Homo sapiens: one gene and its partners. The protein of the gene in region 1 purifies or fractionates together with the protein of each later gene. This does not show direct contact. Each region holds a gene or a part of one and is shown in the gene's direction. Other genes may lie near its edges. The genes, in order: GPR18, POF1B, CALML5 and SERPINB3.

Region 1 (6,926 bases):
CTATACTTACTATTTTTTTCCTGTACATACATACCTATGATAAAGTTTAACTTATACATTAGGCTCAGTACCTTTGTGTTTTGGGACCATTATTAATTAAATAAGGGTTACTGGAACACAAGCACTGTGACACTGTGACAGTAAACCTGATCACCAAGGTGGCTATGAAAGTGACTAATGAGTGGGAATGTCTACAGTGTGGAGACACTGGGCAAAGGGAGGACTCATGTCCTGGGGAGGAAGGAGCGGGACAGTGAGAGATTTCATCCTGCTGCTCAGAATGGCATGCAACAGAAAACTTATGAATTGTTTATTTCTGGAATTTTTCCATTTAATATTTTCAGACCATATTTGACTGAAGGTAACTGAAGGTAACTGAAGCCTCAGACAGCAAAATTGCGGATAAGGGGACTACTGTATACCCATCTCCATTTGCACCTCTGGTAACTGTGAGATCAGAATGTGCAGCAGAAGGCTGTGTGCCTCACAATAACCATGGAGTTCTGCTCAATCTGCTGCCTTGGCGACTCTGGATCTCTCTTCCAATAGTAAAATGTCACACTGCAAACTCTGGGCCTGGGGTCCCATGGGACTTCAGTGGTTCCAGGACTGATTTCACTGCCATCACTTATATATGGTTAGATATGGATTCAACTTGTTTGCTGTGAGGTTAAGTGTCTGAATGTCTACATGTCTATACATCTTTAAAACTACACACAAAAATTGCTAAAGACAAGAAATTTGGGAATATTAAATTTACAATACAATTTAGGAAACCAAACAGAAAGGAGGTATACTAACTGGGTTAGAAGATTATAGCTGTAAATTGTTGGGACTTAAGAAAAACCACACATTTAGACAAATAGTTTCTCAATCTTCTTTATGCAGAAACTCTTACTATTCAACATATCTCCCCTACACCCACACCCAAAGAGCAGTCAGTTTAGATACAAGTTTGAGAAACAGAAAGGAGGGGACAAAGGTTGGAGGATGTCAAGGCCAAAGGATAGGCCTCTCCTCTAGTTCAGAGGACTCTTTGTCTGCCTCACACCCTCTTCTCCCTGGGGACTGGCTGTGTGCTGACTGTCCCCCTGCTGGGATACATGAACAGTAACAACAGTGGACCCCTGGTCCCCGCACTGATGGGAGGCAACAAGGATAAGCTGCCCTCACACTTGCTATGCTAACAGAACAGGAAATATTATTTTACCTGTGGCATAGACAAATGTCTAACATAGAAGCATATTTTATAGTGGGAATTTGCTATACAGATCTATTAACTACATTCTTTCTCATTAAAAACTGGCTTAACTGAATTATATTCACTCAAAAACTGGTTTATAGGGCTAAAATCAAAATTCACTTATGGCTTTTAATATCAAAACCAAAACCCAAAACTGCAGCTAAAACACACTATTTGATAAAGCAAAGGGAATCTTGCAGTCTCTGGGAATAAGTAAAATCCCTCTTTTGCAAGTGAAACATTTCTCCTTCACTCATATTCCAAAGTAAGTGAAGAAATTAAAGCTGCATGAATGGTCCCTGAATAAGTTCCTCTGTTTGGGGAAAAAAAAAAATTCATTAGGTTCAAGTATTAAAGAAACTTGTGTCTACATTATACAAGTTGAATCCTTGACCCATTGTTTACTTGCTGTCAAATGACTGGGCAGTTTCTTTTCACTATAATTCCCTGCCAACACAAAACCATCGCGAAGATCCAGGAGCACAGCGAACGGGGGTCAATGCTATAGGGCTCATGGGTTGCAGGGGAGGACGACAGACCTCAGGCCCTTGCCTAAGTCTCCCCATCTCATAAGCTGGTCAAAGTGTCCCTGCCTGCTGACTCAAGGCCCAGACATTTATCCATTCCTCCCCCAACCTCTCCATTTCTTCACCTACTTGTTCAGTCAGAAATTCAACCAATATTAAATGCCTCTTCTCTACACACATATGCAACACATGCCAACTCTCAAGGAATGCAATTTAGTGGAGGAGAAAAAGCAAGTAAATATGCAGTAACAATGCAAACATGTGCCACTACAGGGATAGGTACCAAGTGCTAAGGAAACCTGCAGGGATGAACAACCAGCCCAGCTTCGGAGGGCAGAGAAACCAGCCCAGCTTCGGATGGCAGAGAAAGCTTCCTGAAAAAGGTAGCTACAAGAACAAAGAGCAGCAGGCCATGCCATCAGGTGGGAGACAGTGGTGAGGAATGCCACAGTGGGTGGAACAGCATGTGAGAGGCAGGAAGAGCAAATGTAGCCAGTCCAGAGGGCTGGAATGGAGAGCAAGATGAGGAAAAAGTGAGAGCTCACCCCAACCTGAAGCCAGGCCTATGGAGAGCCCTCAGGTGCTCCTGGATGCCTCCTCTAAGAGTCTGGCAATTCAGAAACAAGAATGCCCCTGTGCACCGTGAAGAATTCAAGTCTTGATGAAAGGACTCTTCTAGACACATGCCATCAATGTATCTGTTGATTTTAGCAGCAATGGGGAAGCTAATCAATACTTAATTTTAGAAAAGTCCTAAGCTATGTGAATAAGGCAAAGGACAGATTAGGTCTGCATGCAGGCAGATTTCTGTCCAGCTGAAACATCAAACTCCTGTGTGATGAATGAAATATAACATCACATATAAAAAACTGATGAATGTGATTCAGCCATAAGAAGTCCTATCTAGTGGACAGATCAATATAATTACCTCATAAGAAGTTATTACAGCGGGAGAAACTGGACCTGGCTTTACCTTGAGTTCTTAAGCAAGTAACTGGCCTTCAATTTCTTCATCCACACAAGAAATAGTTGCTATGGTTGTCTCCAACACTTCTAAAACCCATCATTCTGGCAGGTTGTAACAATCAAAAGTATTTTATCACCAAAGGCAAGGATTTAAGTAACTTTTCTAAGCCACAGATTTACTATGGTTTTGTCTGAGAAAAAAAAAAAAAAGGATGGACCCCAAACTGTCTAAAATTCAAAAAAACAAATACATTTAAGTTCATGAACCCTTTAAAAAGTTGACAAACCATGCATAACCAAACATAAAGATAATTAAAATTTTAGGATAAGCAAATGAGAGATAATTTTTTTTAAGAAATGAGAAAGTAAAACAAAATTAACCTAACAAGGCAGGCAGCGATTCGTTGCTCACTTCCCTTTCTGCTGGTTTCATTTCCCTTCTTAGGTGAAAACACTCTTAATATGTAAATCAGTCCACTAAAGACTTCAGAGTCCTTTCTGCTAAGATTTGCAGAAATTTTTATGCAAAAGAAATTATTTCTAGACTTCCACGCACTAGAAAAGCAGACTTACAAAATACAGCAAACTAAAGTGGATAAATGTATGTGGCAAAGCAGAAGCAATTAATCAAGGATCCTACTTTTAAGCATTTAGAAATGTTTAAATAGTAAAAAGTGGAAATGTGGATATTCTATGATTTTTAATAACTTGGTAGTAAAAAGTGAGACTCCATTTAGGAGTACCTACTAAGTGCCAGGTACTATTAAGCACTTGGGATCTTTCTGGTTTAGGGCCCCTACAATCCTACTGGATATAGTATTATCTCTATTTCAACTGTACAGAAATGAAGTAGGAACAAAGGGTTAGTCAGAGTGGGTAGGTAACTAGACAAAGTCACATAGCTTATAAAGCAAAGAAGCTAGACTTTAAACCCCCTTTTACTCAATATCAAATCTTCTCTTTCCATAGATGATGCAGACTTCAAGCATCAAAGTACACAAACTGAAGAAACTTTATCCTTTGTATATAATTATCTTAAATATATGCCATCATTTCAAGGGGAGCTTATGCTAAGTGTGACTTCATAAACAAATCATTTGTGAAAGAGAAAAACCACATCCAGGGTAAAGTCATAAGGTGAAAAAGCCTATTTCAGAGAGCACTTCCTGAAAGAGACAAAGCAGCAATTAAAGTCAGCCCAGCACCAACTCCGACGCCAAGCGTTACACTGGAAACTACTTTTTAAAGCAACAAAAGAGTCTAAAACAAAATACAACATTTCTTAAATACACTGTTTCCAGAAAGAGCTATTTTAACAGAAGCAACTCAAAGATATCCCTTCGACAGAAGTGGAAGTGCTGAAAAATGCTCATCTCTCACACAGACTTTTGATGGACAGGAGGTAAGCAGCATTTAATTAACTTCATGATTATTGTCAAAAGTAATGCTTTATGTACTGCATTTCAAAAATCATTTCATTTTAATAATACAGGCTGGGCGCAATGGCCCACGCCTGTAACTCCAACACTTTGGGAGGCCAAGGCAGGAGGATCAGTTGTGCCCAGGAGCACCATAGTGAGACCCCGTCTCTATTAAAAAAATATATTTAATTAAAAAAATAAACATAACAAACTATGTTGGTGAAAGACCTTGAAATAGGCTATATAATCATCTTTCCACATTAATATGATTTTACATTTATTTTCAATATTGCTTTACATTAATACTAAATGTAATTTTTTTCAACTTAAGGAAAGAAAATGTTTATGGTAAATCATATGTATATTTAGGAATGTTCATCACATGTTTTCAATTACATTGTTTCATGAAATAACTTAATGGTTTTTAAGAAAAGAAAAGCTACAGATAATCATGGTATCTATAGCTTTTAAAAAGCTGACTTTAAAGTCAATCACTTTTCAATATTTATCCAAAAATTTCTGTGTTTGCAGAGCACAATCAATACTATAATGCCTTTAAAACACATGCATCACTCATTTTTTTTCAAACGTCAGCAAATGAATATAAGTATTGGTGACAAGCTACATAAAAACAGCTTGAGCATAACGTGGGAAAAAAGACTCAAGATGGTTTGTAAGTACAGGACTTATGTCACAAAATTGAAGGATGAGGATAGGTGAAGGGAGTCCTGATGCAATACTAAAAAAAGAAAAACAAATACAAAATTTCATTTATATTATAATTGCTACTATTTAATAAGAATGCATTCCAGTTAAAAATAAGATTTAAGCCTCCAAGATTACTCTCCTTTGAATGACACTAGAGATATAATTTTTCTCTGTAGCACTTTCCTCATTTGATAGAAATTAATATTCTAGTCACACCAATATTTGGAAAATTTAATATGTTTTTAAATATATAGAATTATGCTCCTAAATCATATTTAACCTAAATATTTGAGAAGGAAAGAAGGAGAAGAAGGGAAGAAAGGGAAGGGAAGGGAAGGGAAAGGAAGGAAGGCAGACAGGCACGTTTCTTGTGTTTAACCACAGCAATTGCTCAAGTTAATTCTTAATTATCAATAGCCCGTGATGCCACTGACCACAGACAGCAAATCTCCCCCATAGTTTTCCTTAAAGAGAAATTCTGGGCTGATTTCAAGACAGCCCACTCTGCAAAGTGACATTTTTGAAGGAAACTTTTCATCCACCTCCATATTACAAGGGGATGCCACAGATTCCATCTCATTGCAGCAAAGTCTATTTTTGAAGTCTGTTGTTGGTGTTGCATCATGGGGGAATGAAGTTTCACACTGAGGAGTCAATGATATTTGCAACCCCAAATAACCTCCTTTCCATTTAAAATGGACGGTTTTTTTTTTTTTGGTGATGGAAATTTATAAGTTTCTACATACACATCAAGTTACTGAATGACTTCTTATTAATATCTACTTGTCTTAGATACTCCTTTTTTGGATTTACTTTGAAAATTGTTAAAATTTAAATAATATTGAAGCTTCTGAATCTAGATGGAATGAGGATATGAAAGTTACTAACGGCACTAGCTTTTTTCAAGGTGCTGCTTTCTGTGAACCACTGAAGTAGAGCAGCTGAAATCACAAAACCTGGAAGACTTGGCTTTACGTACTCCCAATTGTGCACTAGAAAACAGCTCATCTATTGCTCTAACAGTCTAGTTCTTGATCTGCTGACCATGACACAAAACATTGCTGTTTCTCAACCTATGATAATTTAAAGAGAACATAAGGTAATAAATATTATGAAGTGTTTCCACTTTAAAAAAAACAAAAAGTTTAATAGCCAGCTACACAAGTCTTCATTTTCAAACTAGAGAATTACAAACTAGAGTTTTTTAGCAAAGTAGAGTTGCTGTGAATCATCTCATCAAAAGTTCCTTCATTTATTCATCAATTCAGTAAATATTTATTTATTGAGTACCTATTACATGCTCAATAGACAGTGGGGCTATAGCTGTAACAAAGGAAAAGTTCCCATTCTCTCTCAAATGAGAATTACTGTGAATGTTCAGTAGTTAACCAGTTGAATCGTTCCTTGATTAAATGCTCTCGAACTTAAAATTCACTGGCAGTCAAGCTGAGTGGGAGAATGTTAAGCATTTATTTTTTAACCAACGATTTTATTCTTATTTTTCTTAACTATTTTTACAGTTTCTAAGTATCATGCCTACCAACAAGCTGTAAAATGATCACCCTGAACAATCAAGATCAACCTGTCCCTTTTAACAGCTCACATCCAGATGAATACAAAATTGCAGCCCTTGTCTTCTATAGCTGTATCTTCATAATTGGATTATTTGTTAACATCACTGCATTATGGGTTTTCAGTTGTACCACCAAGAAGAGAACCACGGTAACCATCTATATGATGAATGTGGCATTAGTGGACTTGATATTTATAATGACTTTACCCTTTCGAATGTTTTATTATGCAAAAGATGAATGGCCATTTGGAGAGTACTTCTGCCAGATTCTTGGAGCTCTCACAGTGTTTTACCCAAGCATTGCTTTATGGCTTCTTGCCTTTATTAGTGCTGACAGATACATGGCCATTGTACAGCCGAAGTACGCCAAAGAACTTAAAAACACGTGCAAAGCCGTGCTGGCGTGTGTGGGAGTCTGGATAATGACCCTGACCACGACCACCCCTCTGCTACTGCTCTATAAAGACCCAGATAAAGACTCCACTCCC
Region 2 (7,029 bases), on another chromosome or scaffold:
CCCTCCCCCCACCCCACGACAGGCCCCAGTGTGTGATCTTCCCCAACCTGTGTCCAAGTGTTCTCATTGTTCAATTCCCACCTATGAGTGAGAACATGTGGTGTTTGGTTTTCTGTCCTTGCGGTAGTTTGCTCAGAATTATGGTTTCCAGCTTCATCCATGTCCCTACAAAGGACGTGAACTCATCCTTTTTTATGGCTGCATAGTATTCCATGGTGTATATGTGCCACATTTTCTTAATCCAGTCTATCATTGATGGACATTTGGGTTGGTTCCAAGTCTTTGCTGTTGTGAATAGTGCCACAATAAACATACGTGTGCATACGTCTTTATAGCAGCATGATTTATAATCCGTTGGGTATATACCCAGTAATGGGATGGCTGGGTCAAATGGTATTTCTAGTTCTAGATCCTTGAGGGATCGCCACACTGTCTTCCACAATGGCTGAACTAGTTTACAGTCCTGCCAACGGTGTAAAAGTATTCCTATTTCTCCACATCCTCTCCAGCACCTGTTGTTTCCTGACTTTTTAATGATCGCCATTCTAAGTGGCCTGAGATCACTGTGGTTTTAATTTGCATTTCTCTGATGGCCAGTGATGGTGAGCATTTTTTTCATGTGTCTGTTGGCTGCATAAATGTCTTCTTTTGAGAAGTGTCTGTTCATATCCTTTGCCCACTTTTTGATGGGGATGTTTGATTTTTTCTTGTAAATTTGTTTGAGTTCTTTGTAGATTCTGTATATTAGCCCTTTGTCAGATGGGTAGATTGTAAAAATTTTCTCCCATTCTGTAGGTTGCCTGTTCACTCTGATAGTAGTTTCTTTTGCTGTGCAGAAGCTCTTGAGTTTAATTAGATCCCATCTGTCAATTTTGGCTTTTGTTGCCATTGCTTTTGGTGTTTTAGTCATGAAGTCTTTGCCCACGCCTATGTCCTGAATGGTATTGCCTAGGTTTTCTTCTAGGGTTTTTATGGTTTTAGGTCTAACATTTAAGTCTTTAATCCATCTTGAATTAATTTTTGTATAAGGTGTAAGGAAGGGATCCAGTTTCAGCTTTCTACATATGGCTAGCCAGTTTTCCCAGCACCATTTATTAAAAAGGGAATCCTTTCCCCATTTATTGTTTTTGTCAGATTTGTCAAAGATCAGGTGATTGTAGATGTGTGGTATTATTTCTGAGGGCTCTGTTCTGTTCCATTGGTCTATATTTCTGTTTTGGTACCAGTACCATGCTGTTTTGGTTACTGTAGCATTGTAGTATAGTTTGAAGTCAGGTAGCGTGATGCCTCCGGCTTTTTTCTTTTGGCTTAGGTTTTTCTTGGTAATGTGGGCTCTTTTTTGGTTCCATATGAACTTTAAAGTAATTTTTTCCAATTCTGTGAAAAAAGTCATTGGTAGCTTGATGGGGATGGCATTGAATCTATAAATTACCTTGGGCAGTATGGCCATTTTCACGATATTGATTCTTCCTACCCATGAGCATGGACTGTTCTTCCATTTGTTTGTGTTCTCTTTTATTTCCTTGAGCAGTTGTTTGTAGTTCTTGAAGAGGTCCTTCACATCTCTTGTAAGTTGGATTCCTAGGTATTTTATTCTCTTTGAAGCAATTGTGAATGGGAGTTCACTCGTGATTTGGCTCTCTGTTTGTCTGTTATTGGTGTATAGGAATGCTTGTGATTTTTGCACATTGATTTTGTATCCTGAGACTTTGCTGAAGTTGCTTATCAGCTTAAGGAGATTTTTTACATTTTTTTTAAAAAAGTACTTTAACAATATTGCTCTTCTGTCTTCTGACTTTCATTGTGACTGAGAAGTTTTTTGTTAATCTTATGATTTTTGTTCTTTGAATAATGTCCTTTCTTCTCTGAGGCTGTTTTTAAGATTCTCTTTCACTGGTTTTCAAGAATTTGATAATGATGTGCCTCTCTGTAGTTTTCTTCATGTTTCTTTTTTTCACGTTCACTGAGCTTCTTGGATACGTGTGTTTATAGCTTTACATCATGCTTGGAAATAATTTGGTCATTATGTCAATTATTTTTTTCCACCACCAATCCTGCAGGACTTTAATTATATATATATGAGGACATTTGATATTTTCCACAGTTATTTCATGCTGCATTCATTTTTTTCCGTTTTCTTTTATGTTTTATTTTAAATTATTTATTTTGATGTATTAAAATTTATCGGTCTTTTTGTAATGCAGTGCCTAATCTGCTGTTAACTCCACCTAATTTTTTTAATGTTTAGTAGTCCAATGTGGATCTTTTTTATATTATCTATTTCTCTCCTGTGTTCATGCTTTCCTCTAACTTCTTGAATATACCTTGTATATTTTATATGTTTCTAATAGATGCACATTTACCTACTAATTTTTTTATCAGTGTTGTCTCTTGGTCTGTTTCTACTAATTTATATTTCTCTTCATTATTAGTCGTATCGTCCATTGCATGACTATTCATTTTTCGTTGAATGCCATGAATTGTGATTTTATATTGTTGAGTTTTAGATTTTCGCTAGGGTATTACTTAAAATATTTGGAGTTTTGTTCTGAGATGAAATTATTTGGAAACAATTTAATACATCCAAGCCTTGCTTTTAAACTCTTTGAGAATAACCTGTACTTTGAGGCTAATTTTATCCCACTACTAAGGCAATATTCTGCAGTATCTATCTGATGGCCTCTATATCAGGAGAGCTTTTCACTCTGGTTTTGTTAGTGGAACACAAAACATTACCATCCCTATGAGAGCTCCCAAAATTGCCAGCCTGCTCCTTTCTAGTCATTATTTCCTAAGTCTTGGTAGCTTCTTCACATACAGGCACACTGATCAGTTTTCACCCAAAGGCTTTTGGGAAAACCTCTACAGCTGTCCTGACCTCTCTCTATCTATGTAGCTCTCTTCTGTCTGATACTCTGCCCCACAAACTCTGGGTGCCTTTGCCTATATTTACTCTAAACTTTATCACCTTATCTTGGTGAGACTGCTGGGATCTGTTTAGCTTCCTTTTACTTATCCCGTGACCAAGAAAATCTCTCCAGGCAGTGAGCTAGGCACTTGTAGGGCCCATATCATTTGCTTCCCTTTTCTGGGGTCACTGTCCTGTGCTGCCAGTCGTCCATCATGGCCAGAAACAGAAGTCCCTCTATTTTATTTTCTTGAAAATAATGGTTGTACATCTCTGTCCATTGAAATAGGGTTTTTTTATTTTTTTGTTTTTTCAGTAACAGTTAAAAAGTCATTCAGAGCCGAATTGGCTTAATTAGGGCAATCAAACTAGGAGTGACTAAAAAGGAATGAAAGTTATTTTCTCATGCAGCCTGTAAACTAACTCTTTTCTTGCCAACAGGTACAGGACACAATATCCAATCCTAGGCCTCCTATATGATGACTACGAATATATACCACCAGGTAGTGAAACACAGACTATTGTGATTGAGAAAACAGAAGACAAATACACTTGTGTAAGTTCACTTGGGCATTTTTAGCCCTATTTTGACGATATATGTACAGCCTTTTAAAATTGAGGTAAAATATCAAATGAACTAAAAACTTTGAGTATTTTTTTCTTTTGAGATTTTCTGTTTCCATTATTGATATACAGTGGGAATTAACAAATTTTGGAAAGATTCATACATGTGGCAATATAATTGATTATTTAAGCTATAATATAAATATAATTTTTGCCCCTCAAAAGGAAGAAGATTAACATTAGTGATATGCTAATTTTATTTATTTTCTTGCCTAGCTCGGTAGTTATTGAATGGGTTCCATTAAAATTTTCCAAAACAGTTTCCCTTTTTCTAAAGCAGGTAGCAAATATCATAGACAATTATGAAGGCAACTGGAAAATGGAGAAGAGGCATGTTTCAATAGAATTTGTCTTGCAATCTTGCATGTGGTACTTATTCCTGTGGATTTTATATATATATATATTATATATATTAGGATTTAGAAAGAAGAGATGTTTCTAGCTTCCTCACTAGACTGTAACATCCTCCAGCCTTAAATCCCACAGTTATAGTGAGGTTGCTGAAGAGTACTTTAAACATCATATACTCCAATATTTACTCTACCTTCTACAACATCCTCCAAAATGGCCAGGTGACATGGACCTTAGCATCTTTCTAAGTGGTCCAATCCATTGCTAAGGGGACTGATTATTGAAACCTTCTTATAAAGGACTGAGAGCTACTTCCCTAAAACTTTTACATATTGCTCTATTAACTTTTAAAGTAATGATCATCAAATAGGGGATATATAGTTGTCCCTCAATATCCATGAGAGATTGGTTCCAGGATCCCCTACAGATATCAAAATCTGTAGATGCTCAAGTCCCTTATCGGCATAATATTTGCATATAACCTATGCACATCTTACTGTATACTTTAAGTCATTTCTAGCTTACAATAACTAATTCAATGTAAATTCTAAGTACGTGTCATACCGTCTTGTTTAGGAGGTAATAACAGTAAAAAAAAAAAAAAGTCTGTACATGTTCAGTACAGAAATGATTTTTTTCCTGAATATTTTCAACCCATCATTGGTGGGGAACCCATGAATACCAAGGGCCAACTATATATTCCCTAGCACAGTTGCTCTCTACAGCAACAATTTTGTACCTTACGGGACATTTAGCAATGTCTAGAGACATTTTTGGTTTTCACAACCAGAGGGGTGGGTGTTATTGGCATCTAGTGGTTAGAGAACTAGGATGCTTCTGAACATACTACGATGTGCAGGACAGTCTCCCATAACAAAGAATTATCCAGCCCCTAATAAGTAGTGTTGAGGTTGAAAAACTCTGCTAACAGAATGCTCTTGGGTTTTTTTCCTAATTATATACTCCTACACTGGTGCAAGAGATTCTAATAGTAAGCCACTGGTAGGGATCATAGGAATGTGTGATATCCTTCTGGTGAAATGAACAGAGAAATGTTTGAGGATTCTAGTTCTCAAATCATACAGATCTGACTTAAAACATTGTGAAAATGACAGCCTTTGACTTCTTATGATAAAATTATCTACCTGTCAAACTACTGAGGTATAAAAGTAGGCAAAACTAAATCTATGGCTATTAAATGAAGAAATGGTTATCCTTGTGGGATGGATACTGATTAAAAGGAAGCATAAGGAGAGATTCAAGGTCTTAATAATGTTCTGTTTCTTTATCTGGGAGATGGTTACATATGCATGTTCGGTTTGGGAAAATTCATTTATTTGAATACTTATAATATGTCCATTTCTTTCTACATGTTTATTGTACTTCAGTAAAAGCCTTAAAATGCTTAAGTGTACCGTGGTGAGCAATAGACAAATATACAAATATCAATCCAGTATTCTGCAGAACCTTTTGAAAAATATTTAAAAATTATGCTTCAGATGTATAGTTAATAAAATTAAACATCTAAACATCTGTTAAATAACTTCTAGAAACATCTTTTGGTTGAACAAGCTCAAATATTTGAGTCAACAAAAAAATTCAAAAAGTTTCTTTAGAGCTGAAGCCCTTCTTTAACTACAATCCAGCCATCAATCTTTTAAGTATGGTTGTTATCATCAATGAAAACAACCAATGTTTAGTAATCCCAAAGTAAAAATAACTGCATTTAAACTCTGAAATGTTGTTTTTGTTAGGTCATTAGTTAGCTGAAAATTACTTACTACTAATTATTAACCCATAGAATTTAAAATTGGCCACTCAAAGATAATTTGATGCCCAAAGTTAAGACTGAGAAGCAATTGCTGCCACTAACCCTAACCACATGTATCCCAGAGGTGGCAATATGAAGACCTGCCAAATAAAGTTTCTACAGAATAGTAGCCACTACTTCTCTCTCCATTAAAAATGTGCAGCAGTAAAAATCAAAATTGATATTTGAAGAATCTATAGATACTGATAGCAAGGTCAGAATATATTTAAATGCATTCACAGATGAAAATCCATATTTATTAAGAGACAATTGGACATATTTAAACTCTAAATATTACTAAGAAGGAAATCTACTTAATTGTCCTTCACTCTTGCTTAAAGTCATTTGAAACATACCATGAGTAAAGTAAGAAAGACAAATCATTGTTTCATTGAATATATATATATAAAAGAGTGCCACAAAAGTGCAATACATGTCCTTTGGTTTTATACATACCAATTTAAATAATTTTCCATAACTTTGCATATAGTAACAATGACTTTAATTATGAACCAGTTGTAAGATAACCTTTTTTTTTCTTTTCTAGCCATGAATGGATCCACTTTAAAGTATTACAACTCAAAGCCGTTTTTTTTTTGTGTGTGTGTCTCTGCATTAGTACTTTGTTATTTTTCCATCACTAAAGGCCAATCAGAATTTGGAACCATGCTGCTACCCAAGAAATCTAATGGAATGAATTAGTTCTGTAGATGACAATTTCTTCACCCATTTATGAGACCTAAATCTTTTCCATAACACTCATGTATTCAGTATAACAACATACTAACTGAAAGAGGGACCTGATTGTTTAAAGTTTGATTGCAGACACTGTAGAACATAACTCATTATGTTTCAGATAAGGTAACTCCTAGATATCAAACTAATTTGTTGGGGTAGAGATTTTACAAGTCATGCCATTAGAAGATTTTCTCTGATATTATATGTGCAGTTCAGTTACAAGATGAAATCATGTTTTTTTAACAAAAGAGATAAAATACAATTGAAGCAAAAAATAACAGCTAGTATATAATATATACAGTCTGTATTTGCTTTTCACAGTAGGCCTGATGACTAAAAGATATGCTTTATTACACGCTATTTTCACCTCTTGAAAGTCAAAGGTGATGATTAATTTCATTTAGCAGGGAAGTGGAATAATATCTTTTGAAATAACTAAGTCCACTAAATTATACAGTATGCTATTCTGGTTCTAAGTACATATTAGTCCCTTGGCAAATCTGTTCTTTCAAAGCATACCTTCCCCAAATGAGCCTACCTACTTCTTAAAAAACATATAACACAATGTGGTAGTAGTAGGTGTAAGGAAGGTAAGTTT
Region 3 (6,348 bases), on another chromosome or scaffold:
ATTTCTTTACTCAGCTGAAGCCCTGAGAACTTAGAATTGCCACCCAGGTCTGCAGTGAGGATACTTCTGCTTTGCCCAGGAAGCAGCCTGGCATGTCACCCAGCAGAGAGCTGGCGCAGGCAGGGGGTGCAGGAGCTAGCAGGGGCTCTGCCTACTGAGTGCTTGCTCTCACCAGGTGCTGGGCGGAGGCTTTCCTGCAGGGCTTTGCCCCTCTCAAGTCTCCTATAAGGCAGGTGCTAGTACCATATTCTTCACCAGAGAGGCATGCAGCGTTTAGGGGTGAAACAGCTCACCCAGGCCACACAGGGAGCAAAGTGCAGAAGCCAGGAGCTCACCCCCAGTGATCTTACCACACGCTGTTGGGAAGACGTTGTGTGGTGTGTAGGGAAGGTGTGTGGTGTGTAGGGGAGGTGCGTGGTGTGTAGGGGAGGTGCGTGGTGTGTAGGGGAGGAAGGTGTGTGGTGTGTAGGGGAGGAAGGTGCGCGGTGTGCAGGGGAGGTGTGTGGTGTGTAGGGGAGGTGTGTGGTGTGTAGGGGAGGTGCGCGGTGTGCAGGGGAGGTGTGTGGTGTGTAGGGGAGGTGTGTGGTGTGCAGGGAAGGTGGATAGTGTCTAGGAGTACCCAGGAAAGGGGGCTCGGAGCCAGCTGCCTGTGCAACCAGCACAATCGCTCATCATTTCTATTTCTCATTGCTGAGGATAATCGCAAGGGAGATGAGCTCTGTGAAGCTGGGTCCCCCGTGTTCTCTTCCACAGATCACACCCTCCACACAGGCCCTTCTCATTTCCCTGGGGCTGCCCTGTCCTCAGAGAAGGTCAGGGCTGTGCCAACACTGCAGAGACAGCACAGGTGCCAGGTGAGATCAGTTTCTGCAAACACAGAAGTGTGAGGAGTTTCTGTGCTGGTTGAGGCTCCAAGGCCTGTTTGACTGGTTTCTCCACTCTGAGGAGCCAAAGTGTAGTGGAAGTGCCAGAGTGTGTTTTTGTTCCCGGGGTGAGTCTGGTGTGAAAGCTAGAGCTGGCCTTGCCTGAACAGGACAGCCACCCTACACCCTGCATATCTTCTCCCAACACACACACACATACATGCATGCACACTTGCACACACATGCAAACTTGTGCTCACATGCACACACAAACTCAAACCCACACACACATACATGCATGCACACTTGCACACACATGCAAACTTGTGCTCACATGCACACACAAACTCAAACCCACACACACATGCACACACAAATAGACATATACATACACACACAAAAACACATGTGCACACAGCTAATGCACAAGGCAGTCCCATGACTGATGATAACTCTCCCCTTCCTGCCTCTGGGGACCTGTCCAGCCACCTTGGAGAGGTTTTCATCCTTTCTATAGCAAGTTGCAGACGTCTTCAGTCCTCCTCAATGAAGGAGACTCCCTTTCTCCTCCAGGGTGGCAGGGAGAGTTGGCGTCTCCATGAGGGGCTCAGCTGACAGGCGCGGGAGAGGGGAGGAGAGCCCACCTCCAGCACTCAATCACAAAGCTGCCATCTCCCTGCAAACCCCCCCACTTCCCTCTTCTGTGCTGATCACGACCTTCTCTTTCTCACCTGGTCCCTGGATCCTTCTCTGCAAACTTCAGCCTGTCCCTCTGCTGCAGTTCTTCCCAGCCTTCTGCACCTCCCTTAGGCCCCTCGCACACAGCTCCGGGGGCAGCCACCACATTAGGGCTAGCTGGGGTATCTTCCTTCCTCTCACTTCCCTGCTGGGTTTGCTTCGCACATGGCCCCTGGGTCGGGGGAGCTCAGCTGTGGGATGTGGAGCCAGCGGCTGGGCACCCCAGCTTCAGGCTCCTTATGGAGTGGAGGACGGGTGATGCCCTTGGCCCCTGCATCACACAGGGATACACGCAGAAGGCGTCGCCTGAGAATGCACCTTAGCTAGAAAGAAGGGTTTCTCCCTCCTCAAAGCCAGGCTCTGCACCCAACTGCCGTGCTAAACCAGCCAAGGCAGAGGGGCTTGACCAAGCTTGCCTAGATTTGACAACAAATGCCATCTTGTCCCTCTTCGGGAGCCCCCATTTGGGCTGTGCCAGGCCGTCTGTGGTGCGGGTCACTCAGGCATGGCCGTCCTTGGTGTCCCTAGTGCTGAACCCAGAGGAGGGGAGTGGAAACTTCACCCACAGAGGCTGAGCCAAGGCAGCTGACGGCTTGCATACTTGCAAGCCACTTGTGGTGGGAGGCTGAGGGGAGGATGAAAAAAACAATCTCAGTGCTTGTACATGCCCTGAAAAGAGAATGTGTTAGGGAGGAAATGACCCCGGATGGGGAAACACGCAGCGGGAAGTCAGGGGACTTTCCCTATGGACACGGCCTCTCTCCATCTAGAAAACGCACATCGTGAGAATAGTGACCATCATCCTGTCTCGTGATGAGACAGCCTGAGGCTTTTTCTAAATAGGTGCTTCTGCTCTGCATGGAACTGCCTCTGTCTGGAGCTGACACTGAAAAGTCAGCTAATGCTCTGAGCCTTGGCATGTTGGACTTAACTAAACCTCGAGGTGGACGCATTTAATTTTTCCGTTCAATCAAAAGAGGTATAATCACAAAATTGTGAGATTCCCCTTCAAGTAGATGTTTTCCCGAGTGTTGGTTTACATCAAACATGAATCAGCTCGTTATTAACATGAGGTTTATCATAGAATAATAACACCTGCTGCTGGCTCTGTACTTAATATTCTGATCCTACACGCTCCGATCAGATATGGTGGGTGCATCATCCTAGTTTATAGATGTGGATATTGAGACACACGTTTCCACATCACTGACAAAACTGGAACCGGGAGCTCAAGTCTCCTAATATTGTTTGCAAAGTAGTATTTAATACCTGGGGAAAATGACATGAAATAATTATTAAGCCTTTGGATTTTAATCACAGGTCCCATCAACAAGATCAGAAGGAAAGGAAATTTCAACTATAGATTTAAATCTTCAGGTATTCTTTAAGGAAATAAAACAAGGAGCTGGGCTGAATCCAGCTATTCAGAGTCCCGCCCTCCCTGGGCCCCTCACCAGGCAGGATGCTTCTCTGTTCTCATCTCCTGGCCAGAACCACGTTCTCCACCCCAAACCGGTTGTCAATTTCATTGAGAAATTGGTTGCTCAATATTTATTGAGGCCTCTGTATTATTCCACCACTGAGGTGAGCTAGAAAATCTTCAAGCTATCTTTATAAAATGAGTTAGACAACTGGGACACTGCTCTCTGCATCTCTCTGTCTATGCTGGGTCCCCCTGAACTCCGGTGGGGTGACCCCCTTCCTTCCCTCTCCCTGCTGACCATGACCTTCCCTTTTGTACCTGGTCCACGGAGCTCCCTCTCTGCAGACCTCAGCCTCTCCCTCTGCTGTGGTGCTTCCGAGCCCTTTGCACCTCCCTCTGGCCCCTCACATGCAGCTCAGGGAGCAGCTGCCACACTAGGGCTGGCTGGGGCATCTTCCCTCCTCTCACTGCTCTGCCTGGTTTGCCCCTTGTGTGGTCCTGGGGGACTGAGCTGTGGGTCATGGAGTGCGTGGTTGGGCACCCCAGCCTCCGGCTTCCCTTGGAGAATGTGTGCAGCACCAAGGGGCTGGGAGGTGTTTGTCTGGCTGCACTTTAGGGAAGGAGAGGGCACTTGGTCTATTTGATGGGCTGAACAGGAGGGAGGTGGAATGTATAAACTTTCCCAGGGGAATAAAGGAGTTTGTTCCCTGTGTACGGGCAGGGGCTGGGGAGAAGAATGGGAATCTATGGAGATCAGAGGGGACTTGCTTGGGAAAGGCATTTTGGGGACTCCAAGGCAAATGTCCCCTCACAACTGTAGATCACATCAGTGGAAGGACTTGGGGATGGTCCCCCGAAAGCTTAGCTGTTGCTCTAAAAGTTGGTCAAGGCAAGTGGCCCTGGGGGTTTCCTTCCAGAGAACAGATCAGATTGAGGACCCCAGTAGGCTCCCAGATGGGTCTCTGTGCTTAGGGCTGATGCTTAGTAAAACCACAAGGAGGGCCAAGTTTGATGGCAGCCACCTGTTCTGCATCCTCCTGCACCTCTGCCTGCACCTTTGGGGTATGCTGGGCACTGAGGTCCCCCGTGTCTCGCTGCAGCAAAACTCCAGCTGTAACTGTTTGACGCCCTGTGAATGGAACGCCTGCCACTGAGCTCCCAGGGTGTCTGCACAGGGAACCTTGGACTTGGCGATGGAATTGAATTGTAGGAATCCCTGAGCTAGAAGGGAGTATTCTGGGGAGACAAAAAGTCTTTCCCTCTCCTCTGAAACTGCACGTCACATGTTCACTTGATAAACACCATCTCAGCACCAGCTATGGCTCTGAAGGCAGCCCTGGTCCCTTGCTTCCTTGAAGTTATAGGCAGTGAGCCCCATCCTCTGTCTCTAGACCCTGGCCTGGGAATCTCATGATACCCACAGTTGTGCCCTGGCAGAATCAACACTACCACCCACTTCCCTTCCACCAGCCCCAGCCTCAGGGCAAGAGCTAGGCAGTAGCACTGGAGAGAGGGGTACGGAAACACCAAACACTGGGGCCTGCTGTGCCCTTGAGGGAGCCCTCTTCAAGCCACCTCCCCCTCCAGTCTCAGTCTTTGTGAAGTTGCAGAAGCTGTCTTGAACCCCTTGGCTTGGTCAGGATCTCCGAGAATCAGCTGCAGGGGAAACTATCCCTTGGGCAGAATGTTCCTGGAGGGAGGTGGTTGCTATCAAGGCCAGGCGGGGTTGGCAGGCTAGCCATCCGATACCCCGACCCCATGGCAGTTCCCACCTGGCACCTGACAGCTCTCCCAACTCCCATTCCTGCATTTCCTGTCTGCAGCTGATCTGGCCCTCCCTGGGAGGAGGCTCTCACCCCAGGGCATTTGGAGGGTGGGGAGCCTCCCTCCTCCCTTTGTTCCGATTGCAGAAAAGGAGGGGGTTCCCATGCCAAGGCAGAACTGTCTGGGACAGACGCTGCCCGGATCCCTGCGGCTGCCTGCACTCTGGACCACGAGCTCTGAGAGCAGCAGGTTGAGGGCCGGTGGGCAGCAGCTCGGAGGCTCCGCGAGGTGCAGGAGACGCAGGCATGGCCGGTGAGCTGACTCCTGAGGAGGAGGCCCAGTACAAAAAGGCTTTCTCCGCGGTTGACACGGATGGAAACGGCACCATCAATGCCCAGGAGCTGGGCGCGGCGCTGAAGGCCACGGGCAAGAACCTCTCGGAGGCCCAGCTAAGGAAACTCATCTCCGAGGTTGACAGCGACGGCGACGGCGAAATCAGCTTCCAGGAGTTCCTGACGGCGGCGAAGAAGGCCAGGGCCGGCCTGGAGGACCTGCAGGTCGCCTTCCGCGCCTTCGACCAGGATGGCGACGGCCACATCACCGTGGACGAGCTCAGGCGGGCCATGGCGGGGCTGGGGCAGCCGCTGCCGCAGGAGGAGCTGGACGCCATGATCCGCGAGGCCGACGTGGACCAGGACGGGCGGGTGAACTACGAGGAGTTCGCGAGGATGCTCGCCCAGGAGTGAGGCTCCCCGCCTGTGTCCCCCTGGCTGCGCTCTGAGCCTTCAGGGCCACCGCCCGCTGCTGCTTTTGTGCTGGGACTCTCCGGGGAAACCTGGTCGGTGGATGGGAAACTGCCTCCCCCTGGGAGGAAGGCTTTGCGCTCCGGGGCCTGGATGCGGCGCCCTCGGGCCGCCTGCGAGCCCCTCTCTGCCTCCAGACCTTGGGCAGAAGGAGGCCTCCTTGGGCCTGGTCCCCCTTTGCCCTGCAGTGGAATGAGGGCCCCTCAGCCCCGCATTGATCTAAATAAAGGACTGCCGAGTTCCATGTGTGCTTGGTGTTTGTGGGGCGGCTGCCTCCGAGGGCCCCCACCTGCTTCCAGGGTTCCTTCCAGCCCACCCCTCTCACCTGCGGTGGCAGAACTGCCTGGAGCAGGCCCCAGGGGCAGCTCCTGCCTCCCCTGACGCGGAGCAGAGGGCAGGTGGGCAGAGGATGTGTGAGGATGGTGCTGGGCGGTGTCTGTGGCTCCAGGTTCTGCCTGAGCTGCTGGTGAGGACCTGGGCACGTGTCCCGCACAAACAGGAGCGGGCGCCTCGCATGGACAGACGGAGCCCAGCTGCCAGCCTCTGCACGCAGCCTGCCTCTCTTCGGCTGCAAATAATATACGTGTACGTCTGTGTGTGCATCTGTGTGTGTGTCTGTGTGTCTGTATGCGTGTCTCTGTATGTGTGCATCTGTGTGTAAGTCTCTGTATGTTTGTGTGTCTGTGTGTCCTTGTGTGCATCTGCATGTGTATGTGTGTATCTGTGTGTGTGTCTGAGTGTGTCTCTGTGTCTATGT
Region 4 (7,488 bases), on another chromosome or scaffold:
CTGATATTTCACGTAGGTTCTTTTCTATTTTCCCTAAGTGTCGGCTGGTCTGAGAAATAAAGGGATAGAGTACAAAAGAGAGAAATTTTAAAGCTGGGTGTCTGGGGAAGACATCACAGTTTGGCAGGTTCCATGATACCCCCTGAGCCACAAAACCAGCAAGTTTTTATTAGTGATTTCAAAAGGAGAGGGAGTGTACGAATAGAGTGTGGGTCACAGAGATCACGTGCTTCACAAGGTGATAGAATATCACAAGGCAAATGGAGGCAGGGTGAGATCACAGGACCACAGGACCTGGGTGAAATTAAAATTGCTAATGAAGTTTCGGGCACGCATTGTCATTGATAACATCTTATCAGGAGACAGGGTTTGAGAGCAGACAACCGGTCTGACCAAAAATTTATTAGATGGGACTTTCCTCATCCTAATAAGCCTAGGAGCGCTACGGGAGGTTGGGGCTTATTTCATCCCTACAGCTTCAACCATAAAAGACGGCTGCCCCCCAAAGCGGCCATTTTAAAGGCCTACCCTCAGGGGCATATTCTCTTTCTCAGGGATGTTCCTTGATGAGAAAAAGAATTCAGCGATATTTCTCCCATTTGCTTTTGAAAGAAGAGAAATATGGCTCTGTTCCACCCAGCTCACCGGCGGTCAGAGTTTAAGGTTATCACTCATGTTCCCTGAACATTGCTGTTATCCTGTTCTTTTTTCAAGGTGCCCAGATTTCATATTGTTCAAACACACATGCTCTACAAATAATTTATGCAGTTAATGCAATCATCACAGGGTCCTGGGACCACATACATTCTCCTCAGCTTGCAAAGATGATGGGATTAAGAGATTAAAGTAAAGACAGGCATAGGAAATCACAAGGGTATTGATTGAGGAAGTGATAAGTGTTCATGAAATCTTCACAATTTATGTTCAGAGATTGCAGTAAAGACAGGCATAAGAAATTATAAAAGTATTAATTTGGGGAACTAATAAATGTCCATGAAAACTTCATAATCTATGTTCTTCTGCCATGGCTTCAGCCAGTCCCTCGGTTCAGGGTCCCTGACTTCCTGCAACATACATGTGAGACTATTTCCCGCTCTGCTTTTCAAACCTTACTGGAGTTGTTTTCCCTCATGAAAACTAAGAAAGGAAAGCTAGTTAATCTTATTCTGAGGTTGTTCAATATATACATATTCACATCTGTAGAGAGATCCTTGGGAATACAGTAATTGGCATATATTCTGTTATTTGATGCTTGAAAAATCTCTTCCACTAACCAGTTTCCCTATAGATAGGCACAAGCACATAGGTAAGAAACAATAAATAAATGTTCTCTTTAATTTGTAACTTCACAATGCTGAGAAAACTTTACAGCCTTCATAAGGAAGTGAGGTCCAGGAAAATCTAGGAGATATTTGTTAACCAACCTATAAAGACATTAGTAATGACAGGATATTTCCTGAAAGTGTAATTTCCCATTGAGGATTTGTTTTTAATTTCTGGATTCCTGGATCCAATGAAGTTGGCATAGGTTTATGAAATGCCAAGATACATAAGTTGGCAAGTGTTCACATGCAAAAAACTTCTTGGAATTCCTGAGCTCTCTGTGGCAATATATGACATCAGGATATGTCCCATCTCGCACATCAGGATATGTCCTGTCAAGAATGTCTATCACATGCCAGGAGTACTTTTTAGGAACAGAAAAAAATGTCTGAAATGGTTTCTCATTTGAACTCATCCAAGCTTTCTCTAAATTTAAGCAAACTCCTGGTCATTTTCAGTTAGTACCTTTCCTCAAGTTCAACCTTCATGACAAACCTCAGCATCTCAGAAGATTTAGCCATAGTCTGAAATTCTCTTCCATAGACTGGTCCCCTGTAATCCCAGTTTGCCTCAGCTTGTTATCCTGCTTTTTATTCCCCTCTATTCCCAGGCTGAGCTTCTTGCTTCTGTCCTATGAGACGTTAGATTCCTTCGCTTTGGTACCCAAGTAAACCCATCCTTCTCCATATACAGGAAGGTCCATTTTTCTCTTACAGCCCTGGATGCAGACTCAGCTAAGAAGACCATTATTCATTTTTGGAATTCTTCATCTAGGATATTTCCTCTTGTTTCTTTCTCTCCTATCTTTGAGCTTTTTAGATCATCAACACCCCATTAGTCTATTACCCAACTTAAATCAGGGAACTTATACCTCCCAAACTCATTCAGAGACTCCAAACATATATATTGATACAGGAGACCTAAGAAGAGCATGTCTTGGGGGTTGAGGAAACAGGCAGGTGAGAAACTTCCAGATTGGAAACACAGCTTCCTTTCTCCCGTCCAGCCCCTACTTCATCCTATCTGTTTCCGGAACCTTGTTGTAGATGAATCTCCCTTGACTTCATGATGTGCTGAGAAAACAAACTCATGGCTGGTGTTAAAAAGGGCCCATGACAATACCAAGTGTTGGGGAGAATGTGGAGAAATCAGAACTCTATTCACAGTCGGTTGGAATGCACACTTGTGCAGAATTCTATGGAGAAGAGTCTGGCATTTCCTCAAAATGTTAACCTGGATTTACCATATGACCCAGCGATTTCATTCATAGGTTTATACTCAAAAGAAATGAAGAAATATGCCATGCAAAAAAATGTACATGAAAAGTCAAAACATCATTATTCATAATAGTAAATGGATGGAAACAACACAAATGTCCATCAACTTATGAATAAAGAAAATGTGGTCTATTCATAGAATGGAATATTATTCGACCACAAAAAGGAATGATGTACTGATCCATGCAATGACGTGGACAAACCTTGAAGATAATACTAGATGAAAGAAGCCAGTCACAAAAGGACTTACTGTATGATTCGATTTACGTGAAATGTTTAGAATAGGCAAATCCATAGAAACAGGAGGTAGATTACTGGTTTCCAGGGTCTCGAGTAAGGGAAGAACGAGATACAAGTTTTCTTTTGGAGGTAGTGAAATTGTTGTGGAACGAGATCATGATGGTGATAGCACAACTTTGTGAATATAATAAAATCATTGAATTGTACAGTTGAATTTGTGGCATATAAATTATATGTTAAAAAAGGGGGTCCACAAAACAAACAGCCCCCCACTCTGGTTGTCAGGGAGATATTGGATTAAATGGCCTTGGACAACAACCCTCTCCCTGGCCACAGACATTCTTCAGATTACAAGATATTCCAGAGGAAACACTGGAATGAGTCTGAAGCCAGGTGCTAAATGGAAGGACCACCAAGAAACGTTGTGATCCTGACAGGTCAAGCAACTTCTTTTTCTGCTTAATTTTTAAATGAAAAATTAGAAAGCTGACATTCAAAATGGCCCGTCTGTTTCAATTGCTCTTCTCAGTGTCAGCCTGTTAACTCAATGTGTTAGTCTGTTTTCATGCTGCTGATAAAGACATACCTGAGATTAGGAAGTAAAAGAGGTTTAATTGGACTTAGAGTTCCACGTGATTGGGGAGGCCTCAGAATCACGGTAGGAGGCAAAAGTTATTCTTACATGGTGGCTGCAAGAGAAAATGAGGAAGAAGCAAAAGAAGAAACCCCTAATAAACCCATTGGATCTCCTGAGACTTATTAACTATCATGAGAATAGCACAAGAAAGACCGGCCCCCATGATTCAATTACCTCTACCTGGGTCCCTCCAACAACATGTGGAAATTCTGGTAGATACAATTCAAGTTGAGATTTGGGTGGGAACACAGCCAAACCATATCACTCAGCAAGGCAGATAACTTTCTCACTGAGCCTATGCAACAGAAAACCATCTGGGATGGTTGTAAGGGGCACAGGAAGTGACTGGTAGGATCACTGCCAAAGCTGAGCATTCAGGAGAAGGCAATAGAATCCTATTCTCCATAGTATGCTATAAGATACTGAAGTACACTTCTTCACTATCTCTTTGGACTTAGAATTAGCACTATATTCCTTGTTATACAGAAAAATTACTAAGGAAATTCATAGGATGACAAAAACTTTCAGAACTGAAAAACAGGAAATGTAAGCTTTTTAGTTCTTTGGTATTCGAAGTATGCCTAAAAGACAATGCAAAATCCAAGAAAAGAATGGTGGGGTTTTTGTTTGTTTGTTTTTGTTTTTGTTTTACAGCTGGAGTAGAATACAAAGGGATGGAGTTGAAACAAATGAGAGGAAATTGGAATTCTAAACTTATTCTCATTGGCATTAGAAAGGCACCTACATGTATTTCACATGAGCCGGTGACTGCTGACTTGCATTCTTATTTTTTCCCTATAGATTAAAAAGGAGGTACAATGGTAGAACTGTAATCCTGTCCTTTGTCATAAATTTTCGTATTCATAAAGGTGAGTGTTAGCCCGCTTGTGAAATCTGAAGTTGAGTAACTTCAAATACTAACCACAGAGGGAGAGGCAGCAAGAGGAGAGGCATAAATTCAGGATCTCACCCTTCATTCCACAGACACACATAGCCTCTCTGCCCACCTCTGCTTCCTCTAGGAACACAGGTAAGAGCTTCAAGCCTCTCCAGCTTAATAACATGAATTATTTTTGAGAATAATAATGATACTGTGTTCTATATCATGCATCTCCTGCATTCTGTCTGATTATATTTTACTTATTCTGCCAGAGCAAAATTAAAATACCTATTTCATCTGATTTGTCCTTTATCTAAATTGCTTAGTTCCAAGTAAACCAAGGCACTTTTAGGAACACAGAGGGAGAGTGCCTTGCAGCCAGAGAGTCTTGAAGGAGATGTCAGGGACGCATCTTAACAGCTGGTTGGATGTGATCCACAGAGGTCTCCTGTTAGCATTCATTGTAAAGCCTTCCTACCTAGCCCTAGTGTAGCCAGCAATGAAGGAAAGAGGGTCTATTACTTATTTACAGTAGTCTTTAAAAACACTAATTTTGTGAGGCTTCTAATTAAGACATTAATATATTTAATATATGCACATTGTAGAAAGATTGAAACGTTAAAAATAAGATGAGGAAAACTTTAAATGTCAAAATCTCACAACACAGATATATAATTTCTTTAAGAAAATTGTACTACAAAATACCATTCCATTTATTAAAGTCATTCTGACAGGAATCTGATGCTTTTCCAGGAGTTCCAGATCACATCGAGTTCACCATGAATTCACTCAGTGAAGCCAACACCAAGTTCATGTTCGACCTGTTCCAACAGTTCAGAAAATCAAAAGAGAACAACATCTTCTATTCCCCTATCAGCATCACATCAGCATTAGGGATGGTCCTCTTAGGAGCCAAAGACAACACTGCACAACAGATTAAGAAGGTAGCTATCAGCATCATTATGTTGTCCTGTTGCAGTTTTTCTCTGGTTCCGTCGGCTAGCACGCAGATGGTAATAGATGTGGTGGTCTGATGGGTAGCACAGGGGGCTGAGCAGGAATTCCCGTAACTGTGAGACCACTGACTTAAACAGATCTTTTGAGTAAAGTTTTCTTGTCCCGCTTCATGTCTCTTCCAGGTTCTTCACTTTGATCAAGTCACAGAGAACACCACAGGAAAAGCTGCAACATATCATGTGAGTCACAGAGCACTATGGTTCAGCTTTAGATCCCCGAACAGGTCATAGTTTGAACCTGGAACTTCACAGAAACTAAGAAAAGGCCATTTTTAGGGAAAATCTTGGACACAAAGATTGAGACATACAGAGTGGGTTGGCATTTCATGGCACATAATTATTATTCCTCCTTTCTTCGTTACTGAAAGACAGTCAGCACTGTACCTCAGAGCATAGGTCTGGATCAGGATAGGCTAGGTTCAGACTCCAGCTTTGCTCTTCACAAATGGTGAACATGAGCAGGACACAACTGCTCAGAGTCCCAGTGACCTCATCCCAGAAAACTAAGGGTAATAAGAAATCTGACTCAATACATGCAAATACATGCAAATGTTTACAACATTGCCTTGCCCATAAAATGTCATAATAAATGTTATTATTATTATAAAATAGCTATAATTATACTAATCACAATAATGTTGCAAAATATTTAATTTTCATTGAGTCATTAATGAGATAAAGAGGAATAAGCACAAGTCCAACTATATTTTGGAAAATGATTGCTATGGAATATATTGGTTTAGAGCCTTAATAGTGCAAAATGCTTTGCTGGAAAGTAGAAGTTTCTAGATTTAAACAGGCTTAGGTTCAAAACGTGGCACTTCTAATTTATGTCTCTATGAAGAGGTTTACTTTCCATTCTCTGAGCTTTCTTGTTTTCACCTGAATTGAACTAAAGACTTAAAGTTACCCATGTAAAGTCCTTAGCCATGTACCTGGCACACACTCTTCTTACGTGCAGAGAATGACCATCATGAGGAAACAGTCACAGATCAGTCAATGTGTCCTACAAGATAACAGCACCAACAGGTATAACAGGGCTTCCTGGCATAATCTATTTAAAATATCCAACCTTCAACATACTCATATCCTTGATGACTGTTAGAAGTGAAATATGGTCCTTGCCTTTAAGGAGCTGAGAGTTTAACTGGGAAGCTAAACCTAACCCTTTAAACCAACAAGGACAAAATCCAGTGGTAGACAGTGCTGCATCTATAGTTCAGAAGAGAAAAGATTGCAGTACATTAGAGCAAGAAGAATTTCCTGGAAGAAGTGAAACATAAGGTGGATTTTGAAGGGTATTTGAGGTGAAATACACCAAGTATCAGGGAATAAGCTCAAAGGTCCTCATTGAGACTACCAGCCATTAGGGACTGATCTAACAGACTTAGCATGGGTTTAGTATTTACATTGATACAGCAATTGAATGATCTCCTTTTTTGATGTTTGAAGGTTGATAGGTCAGGAAATGTTCATCACCAGTTTCAAAAGCTTCTGACTGAATTCAACAAATCCACTGATGCATATGAGCTGAAGATCGCCAACAAGCTCTTCGGAGAAAAAACGTATCTATTTTTACAGGTAATTTCACCTGGCCTACCCACATTTCATTTGCATCCTGATGTCTGTGTCTCTGAGTGGCCAAATGGAAGAAAGCAAGGCAGATGAGCCTGACCGATCCAGGTGGAGAGCATTTACTCAGAGTGCAATAGCTCCGTTTCCACAACTCTCCCCCACTGGAGTGTCCCAGACCCTAACAATACATCACTGAAGTGTGGATTTAGGGATAATCTTGTAATAAAAGAGGAGGTTGGGTAATAGAGTGAGTAAGAGTAATAAGTAATAAGATACCATCGATAAACTGGCACTGACTCAGTCACATACGATACATCTTGGTGGGAAATGTATGACTAATGGGATATTATTGGAATGGGCAGGCTTGGGTGAGTTCCTGAGAATAGTTGAGGAAGTACCAGGAAATACTGAATGCACAGGATGAAAGATAAAAACAAAGATCAGAAACATCATGGTTGAAATTACTGGAAAGAGGTCTGAGAAGCAATGAATCTCCTTCAGGGAAGCCTGCTCTGCAGTTTGCAAACCACAGCCTCTTCT

The links.
Region 2: the proteins of GPR18 (region 1) and POF1B purify together in Homo sapiens (affinity purification with mass spectrometry; 3 studies listed by BioGRID and IntAct, with this or other methods). This does not show direct contact.
Region 3: the proteins of GPR18 (region 1) and CALML5 purify together in Homo sapiens (affinity purification with mass spectrometry; 3 studies listed by BioGRID and IntAct, with this or other methods). This does not show direct contact.
Region 4: the proteins of GPR18 (region 1) and SERPINB3 purify together in Homo sapiens (affinity purification with mass spectrometry; 3 studies listed by BioGRID and IntAct, with this or other methods). This does not show direct contact.

Annotation. Positions count from the first base shown.
Region 1 is NC_000013.11:99,255,366-99,262,291, reverse strand, and holds the start of GPR18 (N-arachidonyl glycine receptor), read left to right. Parts: upstream 1-3,912; 5' UTR 3,913-4,138; intron 4,139-5,772; exon of another isoform or gene 5,773-5,964; intron 5,965-6,385; 5' UTR 6,386-6,419; coding exon 6,420-6,926. UniProt on the Homo sapiens protein: G protein-coupled receptor (GPCR) that plays a role in diverse physiological processes particularly within the immune and nervous systems.
Region 2 is NC_000023.11:85,278,638-85,285,666, reverse strand, and holds part of POF1B (protein POF1B), read left to right. Parts: intron 1-3,349; coding exon 3,350-3,464; coding exon of another isoform or gene 3,465-3,488; exon of another isoform or gene 3,489-3,552; intron 3,553-6,240; coding exon 6,241-6,246; 3' UTR 6,247-7,029. UniProt on the Homo sapiens protein: Plays a key role in the organization of epithelial monolayers by regulating the actin cytoskeleton. May be involved in ovary development.
Region 3 is NC_000010.11:5,498,184-5,504,531, reverse strand, and holds CALML5 (calmodulin-like protein 5), read left to right. Parts: upstream 1-4,961; 5' UTR 4,962-5,093; coding exon 5,094-5,534; 3' UTR 5,535-5,835; downstream 5,836-6,348. UniProt on the Homo sapiens protein: Binds calcium. May be involved in terminal differentiation of keratinocytes.
Region 4 is NC_000018.10:63,658,865-63,666,352, reverse strand, and holds the start of SERPINB3 (serpin B3), read left to right. Parts: upstream 1-4,459; 5' UTR 4,460-4,507; intron 4,508-5,110; 5' UTR 5,111-5,136; coding exon 5,137-5,301; intron 5,302-5,496; coding exon 5,497-5,553; intron 5,554-6,825; coding exon 6,826-6,954; intron 6,955-7,488. UniProt on the Homo sapiens protein: May act as a papain-like cysteine protease inhibitor to modulate the host immune response against tumor cells. Also functions as an inhibitor of UV-induced apoptosis via suppression of the activity of c-Jun NH(2)-terminal kinase (JNK1).